Homo sapiens: one gene and its partner. The protein of the gene in region 1 purifies or fractionates together with the protein of each later gene. This does not show direct contact. Each region holds a gene or a part of one and is shown in the gene's direction. Other genes may lie near its edges. The genes, in order: ACOT6 and SPTB.

Region 1 (2,756 bases):
TGCTTGAACCCGGCAGGTGGAGGTTGCAGTGAGCCAAAATCACACCACATCACTCCAGCCTGGGCAACAGAGAGAGACTCTGTCTGATAAAAAAAAAAAAAAAAAAACAAAAAACAAAAAAAACCAGCAACAACGAAAAAAAAAACAAGACTGGGCGCAGTGGCTTACGCCTGTAATCCCAACACTTCGGGAGGCCAAGGTGGGCGGATCATCTGAGGTCAGGAGTTTGAGACCAGCCTCACCAACATGGTGAAACCCCATCTCTACTAAAAATACAAAATTAGCCAGGTGTGGTGGCACATGCCTGTAATACCAACTACTCGGGAGGCTGAGGCAGGAGAATCGCTTGAACCCGGGGGGAGACGGAGGTTGCAGTGAGCCGAGATCGCACCATTGCACTGCAGCCTGGGCAACAAGAGTGAAACCTTGTCTCAACAAACAAACAAACAAACAAACAAACAAACAAACAGGCTGAGTGCAGTGGCTCGCACTTAAAATCCCAGCACTTGAAGAGGCCGAGGTGGGAGCATTGCAGTGGGAGGATTGCTTGAGGCCAGGAGTTTGAGACTAGCCCAGGCAGCATAGTGAGACCCTATTTCTATAAAAAGTTAAAAATTAGCCAAGCATAGGGGCCTAGCTACTTGGGAGGGTGGCTTCTTGAGGCTGGAGGGTCACTTGAGCCCAAGGATTCAAGGTTACAGTGATCTACAGGCTACAGTGCAGTGGTGTGATCACAGGTCACCACAAACTGGAACTCTTGGGCTCAGATGATCCTCCCGCCTCTTCCTCCTGAGTAGCTAAGACTATAGGCAAGTGCCATCATGCCCAGCTAGTTTTTTAAACTTTTTTGTAGAGATGGGTCTTGTTATGTTGCCCAGGCTGGTCGTGAATTCCTGGCCTCAAGTGGTCCTCTTATCTTGACCTCCCAAAGCACTGGGATTATAGGCATGAACCACCACACCTGGCCTCATTATGTTATTTCTAACTTGGTTTATTTTTGTTTGTGAAAATAATATTATTATTATTATTATTTTTGAGATAGAGTCTCACTCTGTCACCCAGGCTGGAGTGCAGTGGTGTGACAATAATTTATATCATTAAAAAGTTTTAGGCCGGTTGCGGTGGCTCACACCTGTAATCGCAGCACTTTGGGAGGCCAAGGTGGGCAGATCACCTGAGGTCAGGAGTTCAAGACCAGCCTGGCCAACATGGCAAAACCCAGTCTCTACTAAAAATACAAAAAAAATTAGCCGGGTGTCTGTTGCATGTCTGTAATTCCAGATACTTGGGGGGCTGAGGCAGGAGAATTGCTTGAACCCAGGGGGCAGAGGTTGCAGTGAGCTGAGATTGCACCACTGCACTTCAGCCTGGGCGACAGAGTGAGACTGTCAAAAAAAAATTTTTTTTTTAATTTCAATACCTTTTGGTGTACAGGTGGTTTGGGGTTACACGGATGAACTGTACAGTGATGAACGCTGAGATTTTAGTGCACCTGTCGCCTGAGTAGTATACATTGTACCCAATATGTAGTTTTTTATCCCTCTATATTATCATTATTGTTTGAGAAAATAAGACATTTTGTTCTTTCTCTGCCAATCTCTCTACCCCCAATCTCCTTGGCTTCAAAAACTTGTTTGCTTACTGTCTTTTGAGAAACTAAAGCTCCCTGTGATTTGTGATGTTCTCCAGGCAGGGGGCCCTTTCCTGGGATCATTGATCTGTTTGGGAGCAGCAGGGGCCTTTGTGAATACAGGGCCAGCCTCCTGGCCGGACATGGTTTTGCTGTGCTTGCCCTGGCTTATTTCAGATTTGAAGACCTCCCCGAAGATCTGAATGATGTACATCTGGAGTACTTTGAAGAAGCCGTGGACTTTATGCTGCAGCATCCAAAGGTGCGTTCTGGTGATCACCTGAGTGCAGAAGAGAGGGGATAGAGCTGATGCAGGGCTGAATCCAAAAGCCCTGCCAGAACACTGAGAACTAGAAACATGCCAGGAGATACCAAGTCTCCTTCAAAGGTTACTAGGGTGGAAGCTGGGCATGGTGATGTGCACCTGTAGTCCCAGCTACCTGGGAGGCTGAGGCCGGGGGATTGCTTGACCCCAGGAGTTCAAGACCAGCCTGGGCAACATTTAGTGAGACCCCTGTCTCAAAAAAAGTTTTTGTACTAGGATTATTATTTCCATTTTCTCCCATCTCTCTCTAATCCCTGAAGACTTGACTATTTAGTTGTCTTTGTAATTGTGGACCAAAATTCAAAGAGCACAGGACTAAAAAAAGTTCCAGCTCTGCATCTACCACAGAGTGGCCTTATGATTCTGAATAAGGCAGTTACTCTCTCTGGAGTTCAATTTTCCTCCTTAATAAGATTAATGTAAATGTATATAGAGAAAATGACTATAAAGAGATATTTTTTGAGACAACTGGAGACATTTGAATGAGAATGGTGTATTTGATTATATGAAGTAATCATTAATTTTGTTGGGTATGATAATGGTATTATGGTTTTGTAAAGAAAGTCCTTATCTGATAACAGAAATAATTAATTAATTAAAACATTTTGGCCAGGTGCGGTGGCTCACGTCTGTAATCCCAGTACTTTGGGAGGCCAAGGCGGGCAGATCACCTGAGGTCAGGAGTTTGAGACCAGCCTGGCCAACATGGTGAAACCCCATCTACTAAAGATACAAAAATTAGCTGGGCATGGTGGTGCACACCTGTAATCCCAGCTACTCGGGAGGCTGAGGCAGGAGAAT
Region 2 (3,820 bases), 8.8 Mb from region 1:
TTATCTCAGCAGGCCACCTGAGGGTGCAAGAATGGTGCACATGAGGTGCTTAGCAGCCCGCAAGAGGTCATTGGTAGTTCTTATCGCCATCACCTGCTCTGCTCTAGCAACGGGGGTGAGAGGGACCAAGGGTGTCAGAGCTGTGCTGCCACTGCTGAAGCAGCCTCCCCCGCATGGTGGGAAGGCCCTGCCCCGAGCCCTTCCTTCTGGCCGCAGACACTGCAGAATGAGATTCTGGGCCATACGCCGCGGGTTGAGGATGTGCTGCAGAGAGGGCAGCAGCTGGTGGAGGCGGCGGAGATCGACTGCCAGGACCTTGAGGAGCGCCTGGGGCACCTGCAGAGCTCCTGGGACAGGCTGCGGGAGGCAGCGGCCGGGAGGCTGCAGCGACTGAGGGACGCCAACGAGGCACAGCAGTACTACCTGGATGCAGACGAGGCTGAGGCCTGGATTGGCGAGCAGGAGCTCTACGTCATCTCCGATGAGATCCCCAAGGTCTGTTCGGGCAGGGGATACCAGCCAGGGTGCCCAGGCAGAGAGGAAGAGTTGAGGTTGGCTGTCGGTAGGGAGCCTTGTGAGTCCAACTGTGTGAGGAGTGAGGCCAGGGGAGGGGCACAAGGAACCCACAGACTCCCTGCCCTCCCTTGGTGCCTCCTTGAACACACCCCTGCAGGGCACACACTGAAGCCAGGTGCCTCCTGTTTACCCACTTAGGTTTGCTCTAACCCAAGGGTTCTCTACTTTTCTTTACCCTGGATTCTGTACGCTATGAAAGAGATGGGGTGAGAGGTGACAGGTGGGGGTCTCTCAAAGCTGGAATGATATAGGATGTTTTCATGGGGACAGGGGTTAGAGCACAAAAGGAAGGGTATATGTCGGATACGAATCAGGGGAGTCCAGAGAGGAAGGTAGGGCACGGGCATTGCTGGGAAATCAGAAGGGCAGGAAGGAAGCATGTGTGGCTCTCCTGCGGGTGTCCCACAAGCCTACTCCCCTCCTCCCTCGGGCACCTCCAGGAGTGGGGGCACAACTTGCCAAGGGAGGGATCATGGCCAGACTGAGCTCTGGCGCTGACCGTCTGCTGCCTCCTAGGATGAAGAGGGCGCCATTGTGATGCTGAAGCGACATTTGCGGCAGCAGCGTGCGGTGGAGGACTACGGCCGGAACATCAAGCAGCTGGCCAGCCGGGCCCAGGGCCTGCTGTCTGCAGGCCACCCTGAGGGGTGCGTGCGCCCCCTGTGGTGACTCGGTCAGGAGATGGGGATTGAGCCAGGGGCCCACCAGCCAACGTCCCTTCAGATTTAAAAGGAAAATGGAAAGAGTTTTCCCATCAAATAGGGCTGGAGAAAATTGCTGCGGGACTGGTGATGGATCCAATTTCATTTTATGCCTTGGTTTTGTGTGAATCACTTCCAGCTGGGCCATCGAGGCCCTGGTTTTCGAAATGATCAGAGAAGGGGTTAGCAAAACTACCCTCTTGGTGACCTGAGAGCACCAATTTTCCGAAGGGTTACAATATGCTAAGGGACACTGAAGACTACTTTAGCTTTTATTTTTATGGTCCAGAAGGTCTCCAGGACTTCACAGTCCAGACAGAACCATGATGTAGGAGTGCAGGTGGAAACCTGTGCCCACATGGGCTGCGAGGTTTTGTGGATCCTGCATAAATGGAAGCCCACTGGGCCACAGACCACACACTGCCCCCAGCCATGGCCCTGTCCTCAGCTGCCATTAGGGTGCCCACCACTGTGGGTCCTCAGCAGCCACCCCAGAGGTTTCCCTGGGAGCCACATTGTCTGGGCCCCTAGTATGTCTTTTCCCTCCCTGGAGGGCTGAGCAGAGCTGTTGCTGCGGGAGCCCCACTCAGGTAGTGCTGCTCCCCCAGCCTCTCTGGAAGAACAATGGAGGCGTTCCCCATTTGCACTTGTCCCTGTAAGCTTGCCAGAGTGAGGGGCACCATGGGAAGCACCCCTCCAGGACAGAATTCCAGGACACAGTGTGTCATCCCCTGAGGCTAGGGTGTGGCCCCTTCTCTCCCCAGCTCTTCCCCGGCAAAGCCCCTGTCATTTCTCCAGAGCTTCACTCCCTACCTATCCCTGCCAGGGGGCTGTGGTTGGCATATGTTGGCTCCCTGGAGCCACGGCTCTGGGTTCGTGGCTGCCGTCTCTGAGGGCCTTTTTGGTTTTGAATTCCAGGGAACAGATCATCAGACTTCAGGGGCAAGTGGACAAGCACTACGCAGGGCTGAAGGACGTGGCGGAAGAGCGCAAGCGCAAGCTGGAGAACATGTACCACCTGTTCCAGCTCAAGCGGGAGACCGACGACCTGGAGCAGTGGATTTCAGAAAAGGAGCTAGTGGCCTCTTCCCCGGAAATGGGGCAAGACTTTGACCACGTGACTGTGAGTAGCCACAACTCCTGCTGTTTTTGTCTTTCTCTAATGCGGTAGACGCAGCCAGCCGTCACTCAAGACACACAGAGTGCTGCATAGGACGTAACCTCCCCAGTGTGAGGCGGGACCAGCCGATGCAGGCCTGCCCTGGGGAAGGTGTGACAGCGCAGCTCCCGGAGCTGCAGTTGCTGCCTGGGAAAGTCTTTGGCTAAGCTGGTGACACCTGTAACCCCTGTGCCCCCCATAACCACATTTCTGTCTGCCCCATGCCTAGCTTCTGCGGGACAAGTTCCGGGACTTTGCCCGGGAGACCGGGGCGATTGGGCAGGAGCGGGTGGACAATGTGAATGCCTTCATCGAGCGACTCATCGACGCGGGCCACAGCGAGGCGGCCACCATCGCCGAGTGGAAGGACGGGCTGAACGAGATGTGGGCAGACCTCCTGGAGCTCATTGACACGCGCATGCAGCTGCTGGCCGCCTCCTATGACCTGCACCGCTACTTCTACACGGGTGCCGAGATCCTGGGCCTCATCGACGAGAAGCACCGCGAGCTGCCCGAGGACGTGGGGCTGGACGCCAGCACGGCCGAGTCCTTCCACCGGGTGCACACAGCCTTCGAGCGGGAGCTCCACCTGCTGGGTGTCCAGGTACCTTCAGCCCCCTGCCGCCCACCTGCTACCAATTTCCAGGAGCCCTGGGTGTCAGTCCCCACCTGGCTGTCAGCAGGAAAACCTCTAGGATAAGTGCCAGGAGGTTTTGCCTCCTTAGACAGCCAGGAGCTCAGGGCTGGGAGCAGTGGCTTTCAGATGTTCCTTAGCTTCAGAAGTCATTCTTTAAACTGAATCCTCACAAAAGGCCAATGCATACAATACTATACGGTTGCAGTTTCTCCAGTTGTGCAGTACTATTAGTGGACACACGCACAGCACTTTTCTAGCACCAGGTGCTCTTCTGAGCAATGTATGTAGCCGCTGGACCCTCATGGCAGTCCTCTGAGGCAGCTACTAATATTCCCTGCACTTTGTAGATGAGAAAAGGGAGAGGTAGAAGACCCATAAGTTTCCCAGGAACATGTAGGTACGAAGTGGAGCCAGGGCTCAGACCCTGGCAGTCTAGCTATAGACCCCACATACTTAGCCACCGGGCACTTCAGCCTTTCCACATGGGAGCTGGAGAGCCCCCAAGTTCTACTGTTCAGACCCCTGCCCCATCACTGGAGTGCCCTCCGCAGATCCGTAGGGTGCCCCAGAGCTTGGTGTGATAGAAAGGGCAAATGCAAGGGGGCCCCTGTTGCTGAGGGCTCCCCCAGCTTCCAGTGCAGCAGGGAGAGGTAGGCTGGCTGCGCAATCCCAGGCCAGCCCTGCAGGGCTTGGGGACAGAACACCAGGGTTGGCTGGGCCCCTGGTTCATCCAAAAGGGGACCTCTT

The links.
Region 2: the proteins of ACOT6 (region 1) and SPTB purify together in Homo sapiens (affinity purification with mass spectrometry; one large-scale study listed by BioGRID and IntAct). This does not show direct contact.

The regions. Positions count from the first base shown.
Region 1 is NC_000014.9:73,615,301-73,618,056, forward strand, and holds part of ACOT6 (acyl-coenzyme A thioesterase 6), read left to right. Parts: intron 1-1,543; exon of another isoform or gene 1,544-1,693; coding exon 1,694-1,892; intron 1,893-2,756. UniProt on the Homo sapiens protein: Catalyzes the hydrolysis of acyl-CoAs into free fatty acids and coenzyme A (CoASH), regulating their respective intracellular levels.
Region 2 is NC_000014.9:64,771,800-64,775,619, reverse strand, and holds part of SPTB (spectrin beta chain, erythrocytic), read left to right. Parts: exon of another isoform or gene 1-201; intron 202-216; coding exon 217-495; intron 496-1,092; coding exon 1,093-1,223; intron 1,224-2,195; coding exon 2,196-2,400; intron 2,401-2,665; coding exon 2,666-3,040; intron 3,041-3,820.